3 separate regions of the Homo sapiens genome follow, and all the other regions are reported to be linked to region 3. Evidence: microRNA targets listed by miRTarBase, many of them from high-throughput screens and not tested one by one. Region 3 holds a microRNA gene; each other region holds the end of a gene's coding sequence.

Region 1 (5,221 bases), not on the chromosome of region 3:
GTGCAAAGAGTGCGGCCGCCGCTTCCGGCACAAACCCAACCTGCTGTCTCACAGCAAGATTCACAAGCGATCCGAGGGGTCGGCCCAGGCCGCCCCCGGCCCGGGGAGCCCCCAGCTGCCAGCCGGCCCCCAGGAGTCCGCGGCCGAGCCCACCCCGGCGGTACCTCTGAAACCGGCCCAGGAGCCGCCGCCAGGGGCCCCGCCAGAGCACCCGCAGGACCCGATCGAAGCCCCCCCCTCCCTCTACAGCTGCGACGACTGCGGCAGGAGCTTCCGGCTGGAGCGCTTCCTGCGGGCCCACCAGCGGCAGCACACCGGGGAGCGGCCCTTCACCTGCGCCGAGTGCGGGAAGAACTTCGGCAAGAAGACGCACCTGGTGGCGCACTCGCGCGTGCACTCCGGCGAGCGGCCCTTCGCCTGCGAGGAGTGCGGCCGCCGCTTCTCCCAGGGCAGCCATCTGGCGGCGCATCGGCGCGACCACGCCCCCGATCGGCCCTTCGTGTGTCCCGACTGCGGCAAGGCCTTCCGCCACAAACCCTACCTGGCGGCGCACCGGCGCATCCACACCGGCGAGAAGCCCTACGTCTGCCCCGACTGCGGCAAAGCCTTCAGCCAGAAGTCCAACCTGGTGTCGCACCGGCGCATCCACACGGGCGAGCGGCCCTACGCCTGTCCCGACTGCGACCGCAGCTTCAGCCAGAAGTCCAACCTCATCACCCACCGCAAGAGCCACATCCGGGACGGCGCCTTCTGCTGTGCCATCTGTGGCCAGACCTTCGACGACGAGGAGAGACTCCTGGCCCACCAGAAGAAGCACGATGTCTGAGACGGTGGGCGGGGCCGTGTTGGCTGAGAGAGGGCTGGGGTCCTTCGTGGTGGGAGTCGCAGTGGGCTGGGGGTGCCTGCCTAGTGCTGGAGTAGGGGACAATGGGAATCCTAGAGGGGATGGAAGACGCGGGGAGTGAGCTGGGTGGGCCCTGCTAGCGAGAGAGGTCAACCCCGGTGGCCAGGGAACCCACTTCCAAGCGCAGGGACGCCGGCCTCCAGCTGGTGTGTGCTAAGGCTCCGTCCTGACTGCCCTGTGCCCTGGAAAAGCAGCAATAGCATCCGCCCCTTAGAGCCCTCTGGCTAGAGGAGCCACCAGTGGAAAGGAAGACCCTCCATCCTCTGGTATTAACGCCTTAATGCCCCTGTCTTTTACTGTAAGTTACTTAAGATCATTTTTGGAAGCAGGCGTGGTAGAGTCCTGTAAATGAATGCTCTGGGCTAGATACAGCTTGGAGAACCTGCTGGCCTTGTTAGACAGCACTTGGGCCTTTGCCAGCAGCAAGAGGTGAAGCGAAGCCACTCTTACCTCTCCCTTCCCCTCCCACCTGCCCCCTGCGTAGGCACCCAGACTTGGAGAGACCCGTCTGCTGTTAATACTTCCATCCTCTTCCTTCCCAAAGAGCAGATCCCAAGGCATTTACTCCTTGGTCTGTCTCGCTTTATCTGTCGCCCCTCCCAGCGCTGAGAGCCTCCCCTGGCTGTCAGCAGCACTGTGTCCAGGCTCTTGTCTGAACACCGCAGCCCCTCCTTCGCTCCTTCCAGAGCTCAGCATGTCACGGCAAGGACTGCCGCATTGGTGATGGAGGGCCAGCTGAGGGGAAGTTGCTGGTGAGTTTCCTTTTCTCCATTTCTAGCATATGGACACCTGGCCTCTGCTTGAGCACTTAGGTGACAGGAACTTCCGCACCTCCTGAGGCCCTGGATGATTCTAATTGTTAGAAATTCTAATTGTTAGAAATCCTTCCTTATAATGAATGAATTCTGCTTTCCTATAATTTCTACCTATTGGGCCTTGTTCTGTTCTCTGGAACTAAACAGAACAACCATTTACCCCTCCTTTTCAAACTAGAGAATAAAGATTTGGTTTTAGAACTGGTGGCTGGGGAGTGTTACTTTTTCTGGGGGAGCTGCGACATGTCAGGAGGAGCAGCATGCTCTCCTCCCTAGAAGGACGGGGGGCTGTGGGTGGGGCTCTGGCCACAGGCCACATGCCCAGCTTGCTGAGCTCTGGCCCCCTGCCTCAGTTCTTCCCTGAGCATACCCAGGCAGTTGGGCTAATTCTCTGGGTGGTGGGCCGAAGCTCCAGAGAACTGTGGTGGGTGGAATGCTCTCAGCTTGGTCCCAAGATTTATGTTCTTGGTCACTTGCCCTCCTAGATGGGCCCAGCAACACCTAATCTTTCTCACCACCTGGGCCTTTATGAAACTACAGCAAGCACTATGAGCTCTTTTGAGGGGTGCTGGGTGTTAAACGGACTTTGGTTATACTTGGACTGTGCCTCCAGTAGTCCTTCAGAGGTTGGACAGATGAAGGAGCCTCTGGGAGGGGAGGCTGTTCCCTGCAGCTAAGACAGCACTCAGCTTCCACACTCCACACACCAGGGTTTCAGCCTTCTTTGAGGTTGTTGTCAAACCCAGCCTGGGTCCACTTGCCCAGTGTTTGCAAAGCCTAACACCGACAGTGAGATTTGCAGCCAGAGAAAGTAAGGCGTTTATTGCAGAGCACCAGGCGAGGAGAATGGGCAGCTAAGGCTCAAACTCCCTGATGGCTTTTAAGCAAGGGTTTTTAAGGCAGGGGTGGGGAGGTTTCAAAGGGAGTTAGGGGCTGAGGAATTTCTGGAACTTCCTTATCCATTTTCTGGTTCCAGTCTGTCTGAGGTCTACGTGCTGGCATTGTCACGTGGTGACATTGGTGGGGGTCCTGGCTCCTGAAAAACAACTCAAGGATATATGTCAAGATGTTATCTTTAGGCCAGGCATGGTGGCTCATGCCTGTAATCCCGGCACTTTGGGAGGCCGAGGTGGGTGGATCACCTGAGGTCAGGAGTTCAAGACCAGCCTGGCCAACATGGTGAAACCCCATCTCTACTAAAAATACAAAATTAGCTGGGTGTGGTGGCGGGCCCCTGTAGTCCCAGCTACTAGGGAGGCTGAAGCAGGAGAATTGCTTGAACCTGGGAGGCGGAGGTTGCAATGAGCTGAGATCGTGCCACTGCATTCCAGCCTGGGCAACAGAGTAAGACTTTGTCTCAAAACAAACAAACAACCCAAAAAACAAAACAAACAAAAAGATGTTATCTTTAGTTTCTATGAGGAAGCTAACATTCTGTGACTACTACTTGAGTGACTATTGTTTAAGCTATTATTACTTTCTTGCTTAGCGGGTTATTCATTCATTTCCCCAATTCATGGTTGTAGAGCTAGCTAGGTGCCTGGAATTTCCCTGGGAGGGACTCACATTTTTGTTTATTCTCATGCTTTTCAAGTGATGGGCAGAACCCAGCAGGCTCCTAAGTGGAGTCTCTGAGGCTGGGCGTGGTGGCTCACGCCTGTAATCCCAGCACTTTGGGAGGCCGAGGCAGGTGGATCACCTGAGGTTAGGAGTTTGAGACCAGCCTGACCAACATGGAGAAACCCTGTCTCTACTAAAAATACAAAATTAGCCGGGCATGGTGGTGCATGCCTGTAATCCCAGCTACTCGGCAGGCTGAGGCAGGAGAATCACTTGAACCCAGGAGGCAGAAGTTGCAGTGAGCCGAGATCGCGCCATGGCACCCCAGCCTGGGCAACAACTCTGTCTCAAAAAATAAAAATAAAAAAAAATTAAAAAAGAGGGTCTCTGCTCCATCTCAAGGTCAGGTCAGACTTTTCAGGTGCTAGTTGCTAGGCAGGAAAGGGGGCTGATTTGATTCTGTCCTACAGTGTCCCTGGCCGGCCTGCTGTAGGACTCCAGATTTCTGTGAGCAGTCACTCTGTATGCGTCCCTGAATTGGTGGTTTCATACAAATTTGAGTACCTCTTTTTACCAGGCATTAATAGTTCTTTTCTTGCCTGTGTTAGCAATTTCTGCATATATCTCCAGCATTTAGCACAGAGCACATAAGAATAACCACAATTTGTTGACGTGAGTGGCACCTGGTGAAGTTTACCTAAATTATCTCATGTGTCCTTGTGTGGGAGGTAGTCTTCTTTTATACATGAAAACATTTGCCCACAGTCATATAACTGGTAATCACCAGAGGCAGATTCAAATTCAAGTCTGTCTGACTCCTGAAACCTGTGCTCTTGACAACCGCTGTGTGCTTAGTGGATGAACGCTGCGTGCTGCTGTTTTTGGTTAAGTATTAAATGCCAACTGTGTGGGTGGGGCTTAAAGTGTGTAGGATGGAAAGAACAGCTTCAAAGCTTCATATTGGTTTATGGGGTTATGGAGCCACTTAAAAACCTGTGTAGTTGATGGCAAATTATCTGTCAAAGCCTGGGAGCAGAGGGCGTGGTCTCAAGAAAGCCCCAGTCACATTTTTTCTCTTTGTGGGAACACAGGGTTTCCAGGGAAGGGGAGATGGCCAGGAAAGAGTAGGTCGATGTCTGGAAATGATGGGCAGGGAGCAGGGGCGGGTCCTTGGGTTGGCACCTAGGTTAGTATTGGAGCCGTTAGGGACAAGGATGAGGGTGAGAGGGGATCTGACCAGGGGTCCTAACCTTTTGAAAAGTCCCGTTTAAAGGAAATAGTCTGGGATATGGGGAAAGCGGGGTGTGGGTGTCGTCAGTGCTTCACTGCCCACTGCTTGTTATGGGGATGGGAAAGAGAGGTCCAAAGGACGGAAAGGTCACACAAGTGGCCTTGAGGGGGCTGGTAAAGCAGGAACAGAGTCAAATTGTGCCTGGTTCCTTCCTGAGTCCCTTGGTGGGTGGCCCAGTGGTTCTCAAGCCCTTGCTCTGCCTGGTTCATCACCACAGCAGTCACTGGGGAGGACTGCCTGGGTTGTAGGGGTCTGCTGGCAGGAGCTGCCCATCTCTTCTGAAGAATCCACAGTTTTTCTTTGTTTTCTTCTACAATTACAAAAGCATTAAATTATCTTTAAAAATAAATAATTCAGATAATAATGTGAACGTTCTCCTTCATTCCCCTATTCCACTCTCAAAATCCTTTTTGTTTACACTGAGAAAAGTTTGAGGAGTATTCTCCTAACACTTTTTTCCTGTGTATTTGCAAACACATATGCAGCCTCTCCCCCTGGTATTTTTTTTCTTAGTGGAAATAGGATCCCAGAGGTTCTCCATTCTTTCCACCTCTGAAATACCCTTGGTCATGGGATGCCAATCTGGAGGAAGTCTGCTCTGTAAGAAGGAAACAGGCCCAGAGAGTGGAAGTGACCCCCACCGGTGGGGGT
Region 2 (5,221 bases), not on the chromosome of region 3:
TTGGACCTTCCATCCTTATTCAGGAGAATTTGACAAAATTAACTTGCATCATTCTTTCTCAAGGAAAATGCAGAGTTCTGCCACTGTCTTCCCCAAAAGGCTTTTACATCAGGCAGCAAACAGGAAATGGGCCTGATGGTGGTCACAAGCTGAGAGTAGGAAGAAAGTCCTTCTGCAGGAAGTTCAGGGCATGTGGGACAGAGATGTGCCCAGCAAGAAAGAGGTGTGGGGTGACCACAGGGAAAGGATGCCTTAGAATGAGAATCTTTGGGGTCTAAAGTTAGGATTCTCTTAATGTTCCAGTGCATTCTACTGTGTAACAGATAGGAGATATCAAGTCTCAGTATATGTCTTTAAAAATCTGACTTGATTTTAGTTAAACATTAATATTTACAAAGTTATTTTAATTGCTAAAATAATCTAGCCTTTTTTGTTGTTGTTGCTGTTTTGTTCACAGGTGAACTTTGGCATGTACCTGATGCATGCATCATTGGATTTATCCTCCCCATGTTTCCTGTCTGTAGGATCTCAGGTGCTCCCTGTGTTGAAAGAGAATGTGGAAGGTCATGATTTACCTGCATCTGAGAAACACCAGGATGTTACCTCCTAAAAAAAATTTTTAGCATAAAGTTTCTCTTTTACAGTGATCTCTATTATTGTTAAGATCTGCAACTTGGTTCAGTAGAACTTGATGTTTTGAATAAGGAGAGCTCTTTTTCTTTAGAGGCAGGGAATGCTCTCACCTGCTTCCTTCTGCCTTTGACTTCTCACCCTGCAAATTTGCACTGGCTGTGCTCAGGAGAGCACTTCTGAGGCCTCAGGAACGAATGCTGCACCCACATCCAGTGAGGCTCCTGTAGGTATTTGAAGTATAATCACTTGTAATCAGATGAAATTTTTAATGAAGTTCACTGGGAAGATTGAACTTACTGCGGGTCCCTATTTTGCCATTTTCTCACATTGTTACTTTGTTTTTAGAGAGCATCTTTGGATCTCTCCAACCCGTTTGTAGTGAGGAAGGGAGTCTATGCCCAGTGATCCTGGGTATGAGAAGGTGCTCCTCTCCTCCCATGTACATGATGGTGTGGGTTTATGCTCAGGGGCCCAGAGGGTAACTTGTGACCACATTCCTTGAGGGGAGTTTCTACCAGAATATTTATATTCTGAGCAAAGGCACAGGCCAGCAATTCCTTTCCTGTTGCTTCCCATCCCTGGCCTCCGTCCTCATCCCCCACTGAGTTGATGCACTGAGGATGGCTCACGAGCCTGAAGTTACACTCAGTGATGGCTGTGCTTATGCAGGTTGTCATCCTCCCCTCCACAAGCCCACAGGATGGTGTTGGTCCATCACCCGAGAGCCTCCAAATCCTATCGAGGGAGGAACTTTGGCATTCAGGAATCCTGTCTGTATCATCTTTGACCACTGCTCCTGCAGCCTCCAGATGAAAATGTCCAGTGAGGAAATCTCATTCTCTAATGAAGTTACCCATCCCGCTGAGTTTCTAAGAAGTTTCTCCCTGTGCGGAGCTTGTGTGTGCCTTATCTGCTTCTGCATGACTTCCAGCCTGGGGTCTTACCCTGTCCTCTGGAGCAATGCAGAGTGAGTACATCCACTCCACATTCATTCTGCTGGCGTCCTTCTGAAGCCTGCTGTCCATGTGTGAACCCAGTCCCTTCATCATCTTCCCCCTGGATGGTTGTATTTTTCCAGTCACTTCTCCCCCAAATGTCTGCCTGCTGCAGCCCACTGCATCTTTTGAAAGCCTGTGCCACCCCATCTCTCCTGCTGCTCAGTTGGAGAGCAGGCTCCAGGCTCAGGCTTCCCTAATGTATCTGTTCAGAGCCTGTGGGATTCAGGGTCAGTTTGTTTCATTATCACATTTGTAGGACTTTGTGTTGTTCCCAGCACTAGGTGAGATTTGAAAGATGAGGTGTGCTCTGTTCTCAAGGATTGTTGAGATGGAGCCTAATGATTGCACACTCACGTGCTGTGAAGAGTTAAGGGTAAAAAGTACAACTCTGACTCTGGTTCCTGAGATCACCGAAAGAAGAGGCAAATGAAGTTAGGTGGGGTGGGGTGGGGTTTATTGTTTTGAACTGTTTATTAAAAACGCAACCTCTTCAAAGACTCAGCACTGCCACATCATATGAGTGGACTTGTCCTCATCAGCTAACTGATAGGAGAACAATGCCCTAAAGTAATGGATTTATCCACCTACTCAGGCCAGTTTCATGCAGGAGGGAACTTTCCAGATGGCACATTGCCCCATTTCCAAGACCTTCCGCTGACAAATGCATCATATTAATTATGATGGAAAACAAGTAAGAAGGCATGCTCTACAAAAATTAGGTCACTTGCCCAGGTGCGGTGGCTCACACCTGTAATTCCAGCACTTTGGGAGGCTGACGTGGGCAGATCATGAGGTCAGGAGATCGAGACCATCCTGGCTAACACGGTGAAACCCCGTCTCTACTAAAATACAAAAAATTAGCTGGGCATGGTGGCATGCACCTGTAGTCCCAGCTACTTGGGAGGCTGAGGCAGGGGAATCGCTTGAACCCGGGAGGCGGAGGTTGCAGTGAGCCGAGATCATGCCACTGCACACCGGCCTGGTGACAGAGCAAGACTCCATCTCAAAAAAAAAAAAAAAAAAATTAGGTCACTTTTGTCATCAAGAATATGTTTTTCTTATCCACGTCTATGTCACCTTTTGCAGTAGATACTTTCATGACTGATTTCAGGCTTTTTGTTTTTTTGAGACAGGGTCTCACTCTGTCACCCAGGCTGGAGTGCAGTGGCATGATCACAGATCATTGCAGCCTTGACCTCTTGGGCTCAAGCGATTCCCCTGCCTCAGCCTCCCAAGTAGCTGGGACTACAGGCACACATCACCACATCCAGCTAATTTTTTTTTTCTTTTTTTTCTTTTTGGTAGAGATGGCATCTCACTTTGTTGCCCAGGCTAGTTTTGAATTCCTGGGCTCAAGCCATCCTCCCGCCACAGCCTCCCAAAGTTCTGGGATTACAAGTGTGAGCCACTGTGCCCAGCTTTTGATTTCAGACATTTTAATGCAGATCCTCTCCTTTACAGCACTATTATTTGGTTATCTACTTATAATTACTGATTTAACATTGATCTGTTTTCACTAGACTGTAAGCTCCATGAGGACAAGTCCTGTGCCAGTATATCTCTAGTGTCAGCAGACAATACTCAAAATTTGTTGACAGACTATTTAAAGCTGCCCCTATTTTTATCATTAATTGATTGAATATTAATTAAATATATTTTATTAATTTAAAATGAATTTTAAATGCATTTTTTCTTTAGTGTCTACCTTCAATATTTCTTGTATGAAGTTTCAGCTAAAAATGTACTTTGTGTATCTGTAGAGTGGCTTCATATTCAGAGTTTATGGACATTTATGATTTTATGTCCCCTCCTTGGTTCTTATCTCCTGGAGTTCAGCCTTATGTGCTTCTCAAAGTGTATAACAAAATCAAAGACAATGTCATGTCCCTTGAATTTAATTCTAACACCAAACCTTGGTGTTAGAGTCACAAAAAGTCCTTTTTTAAAAAAACTTGGTGAGAACAGACAATAACTTGTCTTTCTGGGCATTCGCGTCATGGTCCTTTTAGCCAGAAGAGAGGTTTTCTTTTGCATAGTTTGGTGAGCATCAAGAATCCTTTAAGGAGGGTGGCGGTGCTGACTTCTCCCCATTGAGAGTCAGCCTCATCCCCTCCTCAGCCTTGTGGATGGAGAAGAACAGGCAGTGATATACATTTTCTGCTGTTGAAAGATGTCCGCTTATCCTTCTCTTTCAGTGAAAAGTTGCTTTTTTATTCAATATGTACTGAACAGGTTCTAGAGTTTCAGAAACAAAAGAAACAGAACCAACATTTATAGATCTCACTATAGAGGCATCACTAATTGGGGAAAGACAGACTAGGTAATAGTCAGATGTGATATAGTATGTTTAAGCTATAGGATGGCAGGTGCATGAGTGTTGGTTGTATTATTCTTTATTTTTTTGTATGACTTATGATATTCATGATAATTAAAACGTTTTGGAACAATTCATCTCAATTTTCTTTGCTTTGTTTAAAAAGCAAACATTGGCCAGGTGTGGTGGCTCATGCCTGTAATCCCAGCACTTTGGGAGGCCAAGGTGGGTGGATCACTTGAGGTCAGGAGTTCGAGACCAGCCTTGCCAACATGGCGAAACCCCATCTCTACTAAAAATATAAAAATTAGCCAGGCATGGTCGTGTGCACTAGTAATCCCAGCTACTCGGGAGGCTGAGGCAGGAGAATTGCTTGATCCCTGGGAGGCGGAGGTTGAAGTCAGCGGAAATCCTGCCACTGCACAGCGGCCTGGGTGACAGAGTGAGACTCCGTCTCAAAAAAATAAAAATTTTTAAAAAATGAAATAAAAATTAAAAGCAAACATTGAGCAAGAAAAGGTGCCAGCCTGCTGAGGTACCATCTCTGTCATTGTAACTACGCCAAAGGCAGATGGATGAGAGAAGGGACCTGCCCTTAGGCTGAAAGATTTGTTATGTTGGTAGCTGGTGGTGTTGTCTGGAACTTATGAATTGTATTTTCCTTGTAGCTTTTTCAGAAAGCAAGCTATTTTTTTCTCTTATTACAGCTACTAAATTTTGAGTTATTCTCACCTTTATTCATTTTTTAAAATGTGGGCCTGCAAAAGTATATCTAGTACTATAACAATATCTTTTTTCCTCTAAATTTTTATTTTTTAATTTTTGTGGGTACATAGTAGGTTTATATATTTATTGGGAGTATAACAACCCCTTAATAGGGAGAAACAACATTTGAGGGGAGGGAAAATATGTATACAATAAACAGAGTGGGGTCACATGATAACATTCTAGGCATTTTGTCAGAGGTGGACCTAAAATTTGAATCTGAGCATGCTGGTATCTTCAAAAGGGGGAAACATGGGAGGCCGAGGTGGGCGGATCACGAGGTCAGGAGATCGAGATCATCCTGGCTAACACGGTGAAACCCCGTCTCTACTAAAAAATACAAAAAATTAGCCGGGCATGGTGGCGGGGGCCTGTAGTCCCAGCTACTCGGGAGGCTGAGGCAGGAGAATGGCGTGAACCTGGGAGGCGGAGCTTGCAGTGAGCGGAGATCGCGCCACTGCACTCCGGCCTGGGCGACAGAGTGAGACTCCATCTCAAAAACAAAAACAAA
Region 3 (5,221 bases):
GAGGAAGGTCATAGGTCTGAAGTTTAGCAGTGCAGTAGGGGGCACTGGAATACTATCTTGGGGGTATGAGTGAGTGCTTTTTCAGGGGTCCTACTTGGGAGAAACATAGATAGACATTCATTTAATATTCATCCATTTCTTTCCAGCATAGTCATCATTCTGACATCATCTAAAAGAAATTAGTATCTGCATTGCATCCTTAAAGAAGAAGGGACAAAAGACATGTCCAAACTGTCTGTCTGTTCTAGTGGAATAAAACATTAATTTAATATGTATTTTGGACAACCACCAACCTAGAGATTGGAAACTTTTCTCAAGGATATATCTCTCTGTATGTGGGCTACTGGCTTTGTGGCTTTTCTGTAGGAAAATTAAAATTCTAGTTTTGTTCTCCCTTATCACCCAGTGTCTGTGTGGCTTAACTGGCTGATTAGCGCGTGCTTGGAATGTGTAAATTCATTTTAACATTGGCCTAGGGGCCTGTGTGGTAGCTCACCCCTGTCATCCCAGCACTTTGGGAGGCCAAGGCAGGGGGATCACTTGAGGCCAGGAGTTCCAGACCAGCCTGGGCAACATAGCAAGACTGTGTCTCTACCAAAAAAAAAAAAAAAAAAAAAATTAGCCAAAGCAGGGTGACACTCACCTGTAGTCCCAGCTATTCAGGAGCTTGAGGTGGGAGGATCACTTCGGCCCAGGAGTCTGAGGCTGGAGTGAGCTATGATTGAGCCACTGCACTCCACTGCACAGAGTCAGACCTTGTCTCTGAAAAACAAAAACATTTGCCTAGGTAAAATGTATCGAGGAAGACAAATTTTAAAATTACTCATTCCAGGCCAGGTGCGGTGGCTCACACCTGTAATCCCAGTACTTTGGGAGGCTGAGGTGGGCGGATCATGAGGTCAGGAGTTCAAGACCAGCCTGGCCAATATGGTGAAACACCGTCTCTACTAAAAATACAAAAATTAGCCGGCTGTGGTGGCGCATGCCTGTAGTCCCAGCTACTCGGGAGGCTGAGGCAGAAGAATCACTTCAACCGGGAGGCGGAGGTTGCAGTGAGCCGAGATCGCGCCTCTGCACTCCAGCCTGGGTGACAGGGTGAGACTCTGTCTTAAAAAAAAAAAAAAAAAATTAGTCATTCCAAAGTCCAATGTCAGACATAGATTATCCGTTGTTTTGGATGTAATCCTCTTCCTGGAAAACTGGCACAACCCAATTACACATGAAATCCTTTCAACTCTGGTATTGGAGGTATAGGGAAGGACTTTGTTTTAGGAGACCCATAGTCTACCTCTATTGTTCTAGGAGTTAAACCACGTTGGTTTACATCCTGACTTTGCCACCTGTCAACTCAGACCTTGGGCAAATCAAAGGTCTGAGGGAGGAGTGCAGGCTCCCAGCGTTCCCACGGGGGTGGGGACGTGACGTATTCATCAGTTCATGAAGTTAATGATATGTATTGAAAAGGTTTGTTCAAGGATTTAAATAAGACGATGAATATATTGAATTAATAATGAATGCAAGGCCTTAAAGGTGTTTTGAGGGTGGTGAAACTTGAATCTCTCATCAACTGTGCAATAGTTATATTAACTTGGATGGCTATGAGTTTTGCAGAGGAAAGCTGGGCTTAAATCCCAATGCTAGACCTGGTGGCTAGACCTTGATTGCCACCGGGTCTAGCATTGGGATTTAAGCGACCTCTAAAAAAAAAAAATCACGGAATCTCTCTTTGGCCTTCCTTTTTTGTTTCTCAGCAGTCTACCAAGCTACGAAGAACCTGAAAATCGGAGGTCGTGTACCTTATTTTTTCTGAGAGCTTAAGCTGAGAGCACAGCCTCCCCAGGAGATTAGCGGCAGAGATCCGCGCGCTGGGAGAAAGGCTAGCCCCAGGGCGCCCTAACTTCCAACTCCGGGAGCAATCCAAACCCGGAGGCCGGCGGGGGAGGGGACAGCTGTAGGGGGCGGTGGGGATGGGAGTGGATGCTCCCGGGTCAGCTCTGGCACTCGCCAGCTGAGCCCAGCGCCAGTCTAGGTGAGCCCCACGGCGGTGAGGGACGCTCGCCAGACGGCCCAGAGGAGTTAGATGACGTCACCTCCAGGAGGACTCGCTTTTTCATTAATGAAACCGGCCGGCGCGGGCGCATGCGCGGCAGGCCGCCTTCCCTCTCGCTTCCCCCTCCCCTTTCCCAGCCGCGCTCTCAATCTCTAGCTCGCTCGCGCTCCCTCTCCCCGGGCCGTGGAAAGGATCCCACTTCCGGTGGGGTGTCATGGCGGCGTCTCGGACTGTGATGGCTGTGGGGAGACGGCGCTAGTGGGGAGAGCGACCAAGAGGCCCCCTCCCCTCCCCGGGTCCCCTTCCCCTATCCCCCTCCCCCCAGCCTCCTTGCCAACGCCCCCTTTCCCTCTCCCCCTCCCGCTCGGCGCTGACCCCCCATCCCCACCCCCGTGGGAACACTGGGAGCCTGCACTCCACAGACCCTCTCCTTGCCTCTTCCCTCACCTCAGCCTCCGCTCCCCGCCCTCTTCCCGGCCCAGGGCGCCGGCCCACCCTTCCCTCCGCCGCCCCCCGGCCGCGGGGAGGACATGGCCGCGCACAGGCCGGTGGAATGGGTCCAGGCCGTGGTCAGCCGCTTCGACGAGCAGGTAACCGGCCCGTGGCGGGCGGGAGGTGGGAGCGGAGTGGGGGTGGGGACAGAGTAGGTGAGGGGAGGTAGGAGCGGCCGCCTCCCCCGCGGCTGCCTCAGGCTCTGGAGGAAAGGAAGGGAAGGGAAGAGAAGGGAAGGGGGGATAAGTGGGGGTGGCCAAGGCGGGAGGTGAGGGGTAGGAGGGGACAGCTGGGAGCTTGGGCACCCTTTCCCTCCTAAGTCGGGGGGTGGGGCCTTGTCCCTGACCAGCCTCCGACCCTCCATCCCCTTTATCCCAGCCCTTCCGCTTGGAAATGGGGATGAGTGACCTGGGGGCGCCTTTAGGGGCGCGCCATCTGGATTTAATAATTACCCCCTTACTTTTGTTTTTGAGCAGAGGTGGGTAACGTTTAGGGGTTCTCTCTTCCTCTTCCCTCCGTGACCCTCCTAACTGGGGACGAGCGAACCCTAAGGCCTGTCTTATATACCCTCAATAGGAGAACGATAACATTCCGCCCCTCCCCCAGTTTCTTCAGCTTCCTCTCCTGGAGGGGGAAGAGCAGAAGAAAGCAAGGAAGGCACAGGTTTTCTTACTTTCTGCTCCATCGTCTCATCCTGCCCCGAGAGCTTCAAGTGCACACTCACTGCACATCTTTGTGATGCCCTACAACGTCGTCCCCCATATCCTGATGACACAGACTGCCTTTTTTTTTTATTGCCGTTTGCAGTGGAAACCGTGGTTCTGAAATATCTTCCCCTTCCTTGATAATTGCAGTCTCTTCCCCCCCCCCTTTTTTTTTTGCCAGCGGTCTGAGGATGTGATGCATTCTCGAGTGAGAATGTTGGGGAGTAAAGGGGAGAAGGGTGAAAGGAAAGTGAGAAACTGCTTCAGAGCCACCGACAACAGAGCAAAGCCAGCTGGGATGTGGTCCTGGAGCGGATCATTCTGCTAGTGTTTGTGGTTGTTTTTGACTCTCTCCTGGTTGACAAGAGAACTTTCATTGAGAATATTTGGGATGAAAAAAAAGTTTTGTAGCTTGAGGAGGTGACTTTTTATCGCCTGAGTTTCACACAATAAATCCTGGGGCTGATTAGAATAAATGCACACATAGCCTTTTGTCAGTGGAAATTGGTTTAACTTTGTGTTGCTGTAGGTAGTTGGGGATGGTTTAAGGGATGCTTTCTGCAGCTGTGGGTGCAGTGGGCTTCCTGTGATGGGGGAATTGTTTAAGATTGAGTCAACCTATTTTGTTTACTGGATATAATGGTAAAACATTATGGGAGCTGAAGGGGTGGGGGAAGAGCTCTTCTGTTATTTGATGCATAAACATTTCTTTACGGGACTCAGCGTTTCAGACCTACCTGGAAAATATCTTGGAATAGACAGAGGAAGTTGAGAAGAAGCTATGTAGATAAAATAGAGTTATGAAGCTGTCAGAGACTTGAAGGAATTGTTTTATCCATTCGTATGCTTCCAGACCCAAAGGCATCTAAACTAAACTACTAATCCATCTGAAGTATAATGTTACTGCATATAAAAGATTACATTATTGATAGAGCGTTAGATTTAAAACTTGGTAGAAAAGACTCTGTAATTTTAAGAAAGGATTTAAAAGGCACATAGAAGACTTCCAAAGCTGAACCTTGTGGACAGCAGAATCTGGATGTAGGAAATTGAAGGATCCACGCCGCAATTCTCCTTAAATTTTAAAAATTAAAAATTTTTTTCAGTTTTTTCTTAATTTTATTTTTTTACTTCTTACCTGTTCATCTCTAGGCTTATTTGCCATATTGGAAAAAGATACTTAAGAGAGGAATGATTTTGGGCTGGGCGCGGTGGCTCACGCCTGTAATCCCAGCACTTTGGGATGCCAAGGCAGGTGGATCACCTGAGGTCAGGAGTTTGAGACCAGCCTGACCAACATGGAGAAACCTCGTCTCTACTAAAAATACAAAAATTAGCTGGGCATGGTGGCGGGCGCCTGTAATCCCAGCTACTCGGGAGGCTGAGGCAGGAGAATTGCTTGAATCCGGGAGGTGGAGGTTGCAGTGAGCTGAGATCACACCACTGCACTCTAGCCTGGGCGACAGAGCGAGACTCTTGTCTCCAAAAAAAAAAAAAAAAAAAAAGGAGGAATGATTTTGATTATATACCCAGTAAAGCAAGAAAGTGTTTCTCCTTCTGTCCCTAGCTTTAAAAGACCTTAAGGCTTCGTTGTTTGTTATGCATATTGTGGAATCAAACTCACCACCATCTGTTAAAAATTAAGGACATTAGTTTTTAAAACAGCATTTTTCTGCATTCCTTATGTTGTAATTAAGAGAAAGATATATAGGAGAGATTATTCCTCACTTTTTTTTTTTGAGACAAGGTCTTGCTCTGTCGCCCACGCTGGAGTGCAGTAGCTTGATGTCGGTTCATTGCAACCCCTGCTTCCCACATTCACGTGATTCTCCTGCTTCAGTCTCCCAAGTAGCTGGGATTACAGGTGTGCACCATCGTGCCTGGCTAATTTTTGTATTTTTAGTAGAGACGGGGGTTTCACCATGTTGGTCAGGCTGGTCTTGAACTCCTGACCTCAGGTGATCTGCCCCCCACC

The links. Region 3 holds the annotated microRNA hsa-miR-4733-3p (CCACCAGGUCUAGCAUUGGGAU, at 1,629-1,650, opposite strand). A microRNA usually pairs through its seed, bases 2 to 8, with sites in the 3' UTR of a target mRNA and lowers its output. Matches are read on the target gene's strand: a 7mer-m8 pairs with bases 2 to 8, a 7mer-A1 pairs with bases 2 to 7 and ends in A, and an 8mer does both.
Region 1: miRTarBase lists REPIN1 as a target of hsa-miR-4733-3p. Seed matches in the 3' UTR shown: 7mer-A1 at 1,654-1,660.
Region 2: the mRNA of MOCOS is a reported target of hsa-miR-4733-3p. Seed matches in the 3' UTR shown: 8mer at 2,610-2,617.

Annotation. Positions count from the first base shown.
Region 1 is chr7:150,372,120-150,377,340 of GRCh38, forward strand. It overlaps REPIN1 (replication initiator 1), which reads left to right. Exons shown (of 3, transcript NM_001099695.2): 3 at 1-1,920. The coding sequence ends at 826. REPIN1-AS1 (REPIN1 antisense RNA 1) reads right to left here and starts at 824. Exons shown (of 4, transcript NR_183429.1): 1 at 722-824. RefSeq lists enhancers at 1,219-1,338, 1,399-1,548.
Region 2 is chr18:36,268,076-36,273,296 of GRCh38, forward strand. MOCOS (molybdenum cofactor sulfurase) reads left to right here. Exons shown (of 15, transcript NM_017947.4): 15 at 458-4,082. The coding sequence ends at 610. Among named protein-coding and RNA genes, the nearest start is that of FHOD3, 27 kb to the right of the region's middle.
Region 3 is chr17:31,092,730-31,097,950 of GRCh38, forward strand. MIR4733 (microRNA 4733) reads right to left here and starts at 1,696; the gene lies at 1,621-1,696. NF1 (neurofibromin 1) reads left to right here and starts at 2,248. Exons shown (of 58, transcript NM_001042492.3): 1 at 2,248-2,640. The coding sequence starts at 2,581. It overlaps MIR4733HG (MIR4733 host gene), which reads right to left and starts at 2,761. Exons shown (of 4, transcript NR_186435.1): 1 at 2,498-2,761; 2 at 644-762. LOC124903974 (a long non-coding RNA gene) reads left to right here. Exons shown (of 2, transcript XR_007065704.1): 2 at 147-398. RefSeq lists a promoter at 1,828-2,253, cis regulatory regions at 1,861-2,100, 2,327-2,637, an enhancer at 2,241-2,258 and silencers at 2,493-2,562, 2,603-2,652.